Linked DNA regions of Homo sapiens. The protein of the gene in region 2 purifies or fractionates together with the protein of the main gene of each other region. This does not show direct contact. Each region holds a gene or a part of one and is shown on either strand. Other genes may lie near its edges.

Region 1 (3,654 bases), on a different chromosome or scaffold from region 2:
TGGCTCTTGAAGACTTGGTACAGGCAAAAGAAGGTAAAAACAGCGAATTAATACTTTTTATGGTGTTTTAAATATACGTTTTTTTAAATACTTGTAACATTAAATATAAATTATAATTTTAAGTAAGTATTAACTTCACTCATTTCTGTTTACTGTGTTAATGTGGTCACTAGAGTACTTTAAATTACATATGGGGCTCACATTACATTTCTCCTGGACAGTGTCGAGTAAGAGCATTGGAGAAACAACATGGACAGAGCACAAACTCTCAAGTCCAATAAGCCCAGGCCATGCCCAAGCTCTCCTGCTTATTATCTCCGTGACCGAAGCGGAGTTATTTAGCTCTATGAGCCTCCATCTACCCAACTGTTAAATGGACGTAACAAAGCATGCTTTTCAAGATAGATGCCTGGGGCACATAGTAGATGCTGAACAGGGTTCCTGAACATTCCAAATGACAGAAGAATGTCCACATTGTATGAGAGAAAAAAAACAGAGGCAGATCTTATATCTCTGAACGCCCCCAGCTGGAAAGAGGGCATCCCCCGTTAACTCTGGGCCGCTCACCTACCTGTTAATGACAGCTTGGTCCTCAGGGAGGCGGAAGACTCTGGGTCTAGGGTTTCCTTCCTGAGGTTTTGGAGTCACACTTCCTATCTCAACAAAACCAAAGCCCATCTTATAAAGTCCGTCCACGGCTTCCCCATGCTTGTCAAATCCTGCAGCAATTCCTACTGGATTTCGGAATTTATGGCCCAGAACTCTCACTTCCTGGGAAGAGGAAGACAAAGTCAGAGGCACGCTAAGGCTATCCCGGTATTTCTCAAAGCATGGTTCCTGGCACAGCTACATCAGAATGACCTGGGAAGCTTGTGAAACCTCAGATCCCAGGGCCCACCCCCAAGGTCAAAATCTTTGGGGGTGGAATGGAGCACTGGGGGAACTATTTTTAACAGTGCTGGCTCTCCAGGGGACTGTGACACCAGCTAGAGTTTGAAAACCACGGGGCTTTATTATTAGCAAGCCTGGGGGGAGAAATGGTGTTTCCACCGTGGGTTGAAGCGGAGACGAGCACTGTCTTTTCCAATTGTGGTTAAGGTTCATACCTTCTTATCAACTAGCCTTGGTGGGAGGGAGTAGCTCGCTGGTGTCAGGCCCTAGATAGTGCTTCCCTGAAACCAAGGCGTGTCAAGCAGCAAAACCCTTTAATCAGCTTAATAAACATCAGCTCCAGCTGTGTCCCTCCTCATCCGGGCTGGCAAGAAGCCCCAGCCACGTCCCCCAGCCTCCCACGGGGAACCAGAGGAAGGAAGATGTTCAGCTGGGCAGAACTGACTGATGGGCTCCAGCGACCTTTCAGGAGACTAGCAAAGGCCTCCCGGGGTGAACACGGTCGGATCCTGGAAGCAGGGGATTAAGAGAGATGCTCCAAGAAGGAAGAGCAACAAATGAAGGTGAGAATGCTCACAGCACCTCAGGAGACTGGTAGGCAAGATGTGTAGGGGCCTTCCTCCAGGACCGTGGTTCTCAGCTCCAGCTGCACCACAAAGGCCCCTGGCAGCTTTCAGGTCCTGCTCTCAGATGTGGCGGTGAAACTGGTCTGGCACCAGGCCAGGGCATCTGAATATTCCAAGTGCACCCCCGGGGGATTCTAACATGCCTGACATAGGTGAAGGGTGGAGAGCCAAACCAGGAAAGTTGTGAAATCAAGAATCCTGGTTACCGGTTAAAAAGTCTGAGTCACATTCTAAATGAGCTGCTGCAAGTGTGGGCCCACGCAGAGGTGTTGAGGACAACACCTCAGAGGTCAGGTTTGCCTGTCTCTGTCATCTGTGTTTATACAGACACAGCTTGCACCCTCAGGCACCCCGCACTTCCTTCTAAATTCACCCCATCTCTGCACCCCACTCATTATTCACTCCCATTTTACACTGGTTCCAGGGCTCTCAAACTAGCAGTCTGAGGTGAGGACACCTTAACGGAGTGCTCTTTCTGAGCCTACAGTGCCTGTTAGTGTGTGAGCATGGCCAGTCAGGGGAAATGACACGTCTGCTCAACACCATATAATCAGATAGTGAAGAGGAGTCTAAGGTAGGAAGAGAAAATGCGGTGAAGGCCCCTTTAATTTATAACAGTGACCCTTCCCACCAGAGTTCTGAGGGCTTCTTGTTTGCATTTTCACACTCATCATTCTGATGTCCTCCCATTTGGTAAGAAGCCTCTCGAAAGGAAACTGCCAAGGCTTCCATGAGGAAGCAGCTTCCATGAGGATGGGGACTCTTTTATTCGGTTTGCTGCACTAAGCCCGGAAGGTCACATGAAACAGAGGCCCTTAGCCTTCCGCTGACACTGGCCTCTGCAGTCAGAGGCTGTATCTACACTTCTGCCTACACACCCTCTTCCTGCCCTAGAGGCTTTCCTGGGACTCTAGGCCAAAGATTTCAAGCATATGGAGAGGGCCCGTGTGCTGAACACGTGGCTGAGTGAGGCTGGGACACGATGCTCCTGCCTCTCACCAGTGCTTAATGACTCTGGCAGCTTCCCCATTTAGCTGAGGGGAAGACTGAGCTACCCACGACCTCAGCAAGGCAGGACAGTGGCCAAGGGGCGGGAAGCCAGCGTCAGACTCTGTGGGTTTGAATCCTGGTCCTGCTACCTCCTAGCTGTGTGACTTGAGTTCCTTTATGTTGCTAATCTGTTCCTCAGTTTCCTGATCCATGGCTGGGGATGGTAACAGGATCCAGCTCATGGAGCAGCTGGGAGGATCAAACAAGAACACCGCCTAACACAATCCCATATACGTAATAGATAATCATCGTTGCTAATTACATGACATAAAATAATAATGCTCAGACTGAATTCCAAATCCCCACTGCTCACTTGGGGTTCTGGTTTTCAAAAAGATCAGTCCCAGCTGAGAAGTTTAGGGGACTGCAGCCTTCGCCTTTGTATTTAATGTATAGGGTGTCTGGGAGCACTACCAGCATGTCAGAGTCTTGAAATCTGGCCCGTGGAAGGAGCCCCAGGGAGGTGAAGCGAACAGCCAGTCTGTGGGCTGACTCCGGGTCCAGCAGCCCCTGCAGAGTCGGCATCAGGTGTTCAGCATAGAAACGCTCATCTCCCGTGGCCATCAGGTAGGAGGCGAAGAGAAGTCCTCCTCCCCCCAGGATGATCACAGCATCCTGGGCCCGCTTCTGCAAAAAAGAGCATATTAGGGGGGTCCCCCAGGCCAGGCTGCAGCACCCTTCCTGAGCCCTTCACACCCAGGTACACAGAGGGCATAACGGCAGGTCACATGAAACAGACGCCCTTAGCCTTCCGCTGACACTGGTCTCTACAGTCAGAGGCTGTATCTATACTTCTGCCTACACACCTTCTTCAGGCCCTAAAGGCTGTCCTGGGACTCCAGGCCAGAAATTTAAAGAGGGACAGTACTGTCCCCTAGGGTGATCGTGGTGGACACTGCTACTGGTTACAGTGACAGGGTAATGCTAATAGATGTGGTGGGCAGGAATCCATAAAGTCAGACATCCTTCTTGGCTTGAGACTATCTGACATGAACTGCCCCATTTCCTGTGTGACTTTTGAACATTCTGACATTTGTGTGGGTAAAAATTATCCGTTCATATTATCTAAGCCAAACTATATTTTACC
Region 2 (3,265 bases):
TTAAAAGTTCCTGACTCCATTTGAATGCTGGTCCTCTCTTTTTTGCTAAAGAAATCTGACCCACAGGTTTGTATTAGTGCTCCACCTACCGGACATTTTCTACAATTGCACCTGTGATGCAGTTAATGTCCCAGACTCGATTCACTCAAAATTTAAAATTACTTTTGCTTTCAAATAATTAACTAATTAACATAAGGTTACATTTTTCTTTACTTTTTTAAAAAATAAAATAACACATAATTAGATACACTAATAATGACAGCCTCCCTTCATCTTTTTCCAGTTTCTATTCCTTTGCCTAGAAGGAACCCACAGTTAGGTGCTTGGAGTTTACTTTCTCAGACCTATTTCTATCACTTACATCCATTATCATGCACAAATAGAAACATGCTGTTTTGCTTTCTTCTGGTTTACATGTCTCGGTTCATGTTCTGTGCATTGGTTTCTCACTTTGTAGCTTAAAAACCTTTTCTTGTCAATGTGAGACTATACTTGAGGGGGTAACTGCACTATTTGCAGTTACTTTGATTTTTAAAATTGATTCTTGTTATTACATTTATATACTCAAAAGCCTAATTTTCCCATGCCCTTTTATTTAATTTATAAATCACATTGTTCTATTTAAAAACCTGGTGAACTCTGACAATAACTCTTAAGGATTTGTCACACTTACTTAATTCCTGTGATGTTTTAAACTCAAGTTATTTCAGGTTAAGTTATTATTATTATTATTATTCTTTGAGACAGGGTCTCATTCTGTCACCCAGGCTGGAGTGCAGTGGCATGACTACAGCTCGTTGAAGCATTGACCTTCCCGGGTTTAGAGAATCCTCCTGCCTCAGACTCCTGAGTAGCTGGGACCATAGGTGCACACCAACATACCCAGCCAATTTTTTGTTTGTTTGCTTGTAGAGGCGGGGTCTCGCCATGTTGCCTAGGCTGGTCTTGAATGCCTGGGTTCAAGTGATCCTCCCGCACTGAACTCCCAAAGTGCTACGGTTACAGGCATGAGCCACTGGGCAAGGCTTCAGGTTATTTTCAACTTAAATATTAAAATATTACATCTTTTTTAAAAAATATTTTAAATGACTTTAAATTAGCAAAACTTTCTCAATTACTTGATTGTAGTAAACCTAATAAATGTATAAAATTTAATCTTAATTCTTTTACAAATTCCAATACTGGTTCAAAACTTAGTAAAATTCTCTTATAACTTCCTACTAAAAATCCCAAGCCTAAAATCAGTTACTTGGCTGAGCATGGTGGTTCACACCTATAATCCCAGCACTTTGGGAGGCCAAGGCAGAAGGATCACCTGAAGTCAGGAGTTTGAGACCAGCCTGGCCAACATGGTAAAACTTCATCTCCACTAAAAATACAAAAATCAGCCAGGCGTGGTAGCTCACACCTGTGGGCCCAGCTACTTGGCAGGCTGAGGCAGGAGAATCACTTGAGCCCAGGAGGTGGAGGCTGCAGTGATGAGCCAAGATCAAGCCACTGAACTCTAGCCTGGGTGACAGAGCAAGACTCCATCAAAAAAAAAAAAAAAAAAAGGAAGGAAGGAAGGGAAAAGAAAATTTTCCAGTAGTGCTGGCTTGCTCCTGTAGTCTCAGCCACTTGAAAGGATGAGGCAGGAGGATCACTTGAACCCAGGAGGTTGAGGTTACAATATGCCATGATCACACCACTGCACTCCATGCCTGGGTGACAGAGCGATAACCTGTCTCCAAAAAAAAAAAAAAAAAAAGAAAAAGAATTAGTTACTTAATAGTAACCCATATACTGGCATCACAGGTTTAATCCAACAGCTGTTCTTATATGCTACATTCTCTAAAATATTGCCAATAATTAAATACCAAAACATACAGATTGTCCCTAAATTTACCACAAAACTATTAATAAAATGGGTGGATTTACATCAACAGTTGTTTATTTCATTTGAAACCTTTGCAGATTAAAAGCCCTTTACCCCACTATTCCTAAACAAGTAGAGATGAGTAGTCCTGTCTCTGTGGCCTGGGGCATTTAGGATAGAGCCTTCCAGCTAAGTTAAAAGATCTGATGTTTGCCTTTGGCCCTTAGTGCCACACTGAGTCCTCATTCCAGTACTATATGTCTGTTTTCTCATATCATCACCAATCCTGCAGATTAAAAGTCTACTGAATTTTTGGCCAATATTATAACCTATAAGCGCTAAGGTTGGTTTTTTCCCCTTGGATTATTCATGGGGTCTTCTGCTTGCTGTATGATTATCCTACCATTGTCTTTAAGGGCTATATTCTACTCCCTCCAGTAAGTGTACCCTTTGATGTAACTGTTTACTTGTCAGTGGATATTTGAGTCCAGTTCCCAGTATTTCAGTATTATAAAGAATGCTCTGGAGAACATATTTGAGCATATAGGCTGTATGTGCATTTCAAATCACTTGTTTGGAATAGGGCACCAAAAGTACCCTAAAGTGTGACCTAGGTCAAAGACTGTGATATTTTTCTAATTCTTGACACATATTGTCAAATTGTTTTCCCAAAGCACTTTATCAATTTACAGTGACATCAAGCATTGAATAACATCTCTAAAACATTTTTCTGCTATGTTTTAATGTATGCCAAGAAAGTTTAGGTGAAAATGACACCTTGTTGAATTTGTTTTCCATTATTATTAGAGTGATTAAATAATTTTGTATATTTGCTATTTGTGGTTTCTCTTTTGTAAATTATCTATGACTATTCACAGCTAGAATGTTTAAAAAATAGATTAGAAAAATTCCTGCCAGGGTGATGAAAGTTGGTGAAAAACTTGGCAGAGTGAAAGAGAGTTTTATCCTTGACATTCAAAGGAATCAGCCAGAATTGTCAAAAATGTCTACCAACAGTCACTGAAAGAATGCCCACACACAGGGAAGAACAGGTCAGGAACTGCAAACCCCTTACTTACCTGCTGTGGTGTGAGACCCAGAGACATTTTAAGGCAGTGTGGTGTGGTAGGAAGAATGAGAACTTTACACACAGACAAATCTCCGTTTTGCTTCGGCCTCTGAGTAACATTAAATGATCACTTAATCCTTCTGAACCTCAGCATCATTGATGACAATCAAACTGTCTTCCTTCTAGGAATGTGGTTGGAGTAAAATGAGATGATGACTCCAGAGTGCCAGCTGGAAGCCTGACACTGCAAAGTGCTCAGAAATACTGAGGAAAACTCGGGAGGCTGAAGCAGGGGAATTGCTTGAACCCGGGAGGCGGAGGGTGCAGTGAGCCGAGATCAC
Region 3 (3,654 bases), on a different chromosome or scaffold from region 2:
CTCCACAAATAATTTAAAAAGCCAGGCATGGTGGTGTGTAGCTGTCGTCCTAGCTACTCGGGAGGCTGAGGTGGGACGACCACTTGAGTCCAGGAGATTGAGAGTGCAGTGAGCCAAGAGCATGCCACTGCACTGCAACCCGGACAACAGAGCAAGACCCTCATCTGCAAACTATATATTTTTTTAATTTTTTATTTTGAAATGGAGTCTTGCTCTGTTGCCAGGCTAGAGTGTAGTGGTGCTATCTTGGTTCACTGGAACCTCCGCCCCCTCCCCGGGTTCAAGCGATTCTTCTGCCTCAGCCTCCTGAGTAGGTGGGACTACAGGCGCACACCACCACGCCCAGCTAATTTTTGTATTTTTAGTAGAGACAGGGTTTCAACATGTTGGCCAGGATGGTCTCGATCTCTTGACCTCGTGATCCGCCTGCCTTGGCCTCCCAAAGTGCTGGAATTACAGGCCACTGCTCCCAGCCTGTGTGTGTGTGTGTGTGTGTGTGTGTGTGTGTGTATTTGTATTTATATATATTTATATATATTTTAAAAGATGCAGGGCCCCCCATTAACACTAGAAGAAATGGATCCAAAGATGGAGAGTATTTACCCCCAAGGCTTGGTATGAGCTGCTTTAGAGATTGTCCACTTCAGGTTGCAGTAAGCCAAGATCAGGCCACTGCACTCCAGCCTGGGCGACAGAGTGAGACTCCATCTCAAAAATAAATAAATAAATAAATAAATAAATAAATAAATAAATAGAGATTGTCCACTTCAGGTTTTCTAATGCCACACTGGATGTTCCAAGGAAAACCTAAGAGAGAAAAACAAGTGGCCTTATTGGAAGATGGAAGAAGTGAGAGCCACAATAATTTGCTGATGTTTTCTTTTTTTTGTAAGTTCAACCCTTATCAAATATAGTCCAGGGTCCCAGAATTGGGCTAATCCAGACCAAGATTTATCTTCTTTTAAGTCTCTACCTCTTGATTGACACTCATTCCTCAAGTCAAAGGAGAAGGAAGGAATGGAAGCTAAGAGTGGTACCTTTCCAGAATTTAATACGAATCAACAAAAGTTGGTAGCATTATTTACCTATCAGGCTACTTCCTTTGTTTCTGACCTGTTTTTGTTTTGTTTTCTTCCCTCCTCTCCCCTTTACACCCACTCCTTACACACAAAGGTGATTTTAAAGGATGTGGACTCACTTCTCTACGTGGACACCGATGTCCTCTTTCTGAGACCTGTTGATGACATCTGGAAGCTTCTGAGGCTGTTTAATTCCACCCAGCTTGCAGCCATGGCCCCTGAGCACGAAATCCCCAAGATTGGCTGGTACAGCCGCTTTGCTAGGCATCCTTTCTATGGCTCTGCAGGAGTTAATTCAGGAGTCATGTTAATGAATTTAACTCGGATAAGAAGTACCCAGTTCAAGGTAAACGAGTGCTTTAAAATTCCTTGTTTAAAGACTGGGAGTTGGTCTTGTCAACAGTGGCACTACCAGAGTGTCAATATGCTGATTTTGGAAATTGGGTGGCCTATAGGTGAGGATAAAAGGAACCAGAGAAAAGTATTTAGAAAATTATAGAATATTTGTTTATTCAGGAAAAGCTCAGATGGCAATGGAATTTAAAGCTTCAGCAAAGTCGCCATTCAGGAATACTATGTTGCATTTCTGAATTCCATAATGTTTGAACGCTTCATACCCAATGCTTCAAAGACTATGTAAAATTTCTTCAAATTACCCTAGGGATTATTTATGTAAGTCCGTGACGATATTTGTATAAGGATGTTCGTGATCTCATCTTTTATCCTAGCAAAGAAGTGGAAAGAAGCTAAAAGAACATCAGTAGAGAACTAGTCAAAAAAAATTATCCTCCTGGCCAGGGGTGGTGGCTCACACTTGTAATCCCAGCACTTTGGAAGACCAAGGCAGGTGGATCACTTGAGGCCAGGAGTTTGAGACCAGCCTGACCAACATGGCGAAACCCTGTCTCTATTAAAAACACAAAAATTAGCCAGGAATGATGGCGCACACCTGTAGTCCTAGCTATTCAGGAGCCTAAGGCAGGAGAATCGTGTGAACCCGAACAGCAGAGGTTGCAGTGAGCCAAGATCACGCCACTGTACTCCAGCCTGGCGACAGAGACTGTGATTATTTGTATGCCTTAGAAATTTCCAGAAGAATTAATGGGGCATGGTGTCACGTGGCTGTAGTCTCAGCTACTTGGGAGGCTGAGATGGGAGGATCGCTTGAGCCCAGGAGGTCGAGGCTGCATTATAGCCACTGCACTTCACCCTAAACAACAGAGTGAGACCCTGTCTCTAAAAAAAGAAAGAAAGAAAGAAAAAGACATGTCCAGAAGAATACCTAAGAGACCATTAATTGTTAACTGTGGATACGTCTGGGGAAAATGGGAATGGGATATGGAAGAAGAATATTTTTACTTTTTTATTTTATATTTTTGTGTGCTGTTTGAATAATTCAGTCTGTGAATATGTTACTTTTATTTTAAAAGTAAATCATTGTTTAAGACAAGGAAAGGTGTTTTTCCTTAAGATACCTGAACTCTGTTATCTGTATTTTGTTCCTTCACCTCACAGTGAGGAAATAAGCCTAAGAAAGATGTTCACCTAAGAAAGGTGAAGTAGAGTAGAGAATCCTGAAGTAGAGACTGCTGTTGAGAAAGACTTCGCCTCTTAGGTGTGGGGACTCACGCCTATAATCCCAGCACTTTGGGAGGGAGGTGGGTCACTCGAGGTCAGGAGTTTGATATCAGCCTCGCCAACAGGGGGAAACCCCATCTCTACTAAAAATACAAAAAGTTAGCCGGGCGTGATGGCGTGCACCCGTAGTCTCAGCTGCCTGGGAGGCTGAGGCACGAGAATCGCTTGAACCCGGGAGGTGGAGGTTGCAGTAAGCCAAGATTGTGCCACTGCATGCCAGCCTGGGCGACAGAGCAAGACTCTGTCTCAAAACAAAAACAAAAACAAAAACACAGGAAGGAAGGGAGGGAGGGAGGGAGGGAAGAGAAGAAAGGAAGGGGTTCAATTCCAGGCATGGTTTTCTGAGTAGAAACCATAGGTTCAACTTTCAGTCCCTGGTCTATCTAGTATCCGTGTGTACAGCTGAAAAAAGCGATACAATCAACAGCCCAAATTTTGCTTTGTTCTGTGACCTGAGAATAGCAGGACCCCTCCTGTATTTGTTTCCCTCCTCTGAAGGGAAGAAAACTAGTCCCTTTACATTGTTTCTCAGTGGACAAAATGTATTTGCTTTGCTTCAGCTGTTCTGATGGTTTTCTTTTTTCCAGAACAGCATGATTCCAACAGGCCTGGCTTGGGAGGACATGTTGTACCCTCTGTACCAGAAGTACAAGAATGCCATCACGTGGGGAGACCAGGATTTATTAAATATTATTTTTTATTTCAACCCAGGTAGGTTATCTTTGGAGAATGCCTTTTGTGTAGGAGTACACTCAGCACACCCCACGGAGCACATTCCATGCCCGGGTTGCTATTGACTAGGCTTGAATTGTGCACAGAGGAGCCTGTGTTCCCCAGCGAAGTTTGCCCTTTCATCCGCCCCCCTGGGTATCTGATGGAGGCGGGGCCTTGCACTACTGACACAAAAGGCCAAATGTTGAAACTTCCAACACTGGAC

The links.
Region 1: the proteins of BST1 (region 2) and DHODH purify together in Homo sapiens (affinity purification with mass spectrometry; one large-scale study listed by BioGRID and IntAct). This does not show direct contact.
Region 3: the proteins of BST1 (region 2) and GXYLT2 purify together in Homo sapiens (affinity purification with mass spectrometry; one large-scale study listed by BioGRID and IntAct). This does not show direct contact.

What each region holds. Positions count from the first base shown.
Region 1 is NC_000016.10:72,011,590-72,015,243, reverse strand, and holds part of DHODH (dihydroorotate dehydrogenase (quinone), mitochondrial), read right to left. Parts: intron 3,195-3,654; coding exon 2,982-3,194; intron 772-2,981; coding exon 572-771; intron 1-571. UniProt on the Homo sapiens protein: Catalyzes the conversion of dihydroorotate to orotate with quinone as electron acceptor. Required for UMP biosynthesis via de novo pathway.
Region 2 is NC_000004.12:15,726,932-15,730,196, reverse strand, and holds part of BST1 (ADP-ribosyl cyclase/cyclic ADP-ribose hydrolase 2 precursor), read right to left. Parts: intron 1-3,265. UniProt on the Homo sapiens protein: Catalyzes both the synthesis of cyclic ADP-beta-D-ribose (cADPR) from NAD(+), and its hydrolysis to ADP-D-ribose (ADPR).
Region 3 is NC_000003.12:72,953,925-72,957,578, forward strand, and holds part of GXYLT2 (glucoside xylosyltransferase 2 precursor), read left to right. Parts: intron 1-1,173; coding exon 1,174-1,425; intron 1,426-3,304; coding exon 3,305-3,428; intron 3,429-3,654.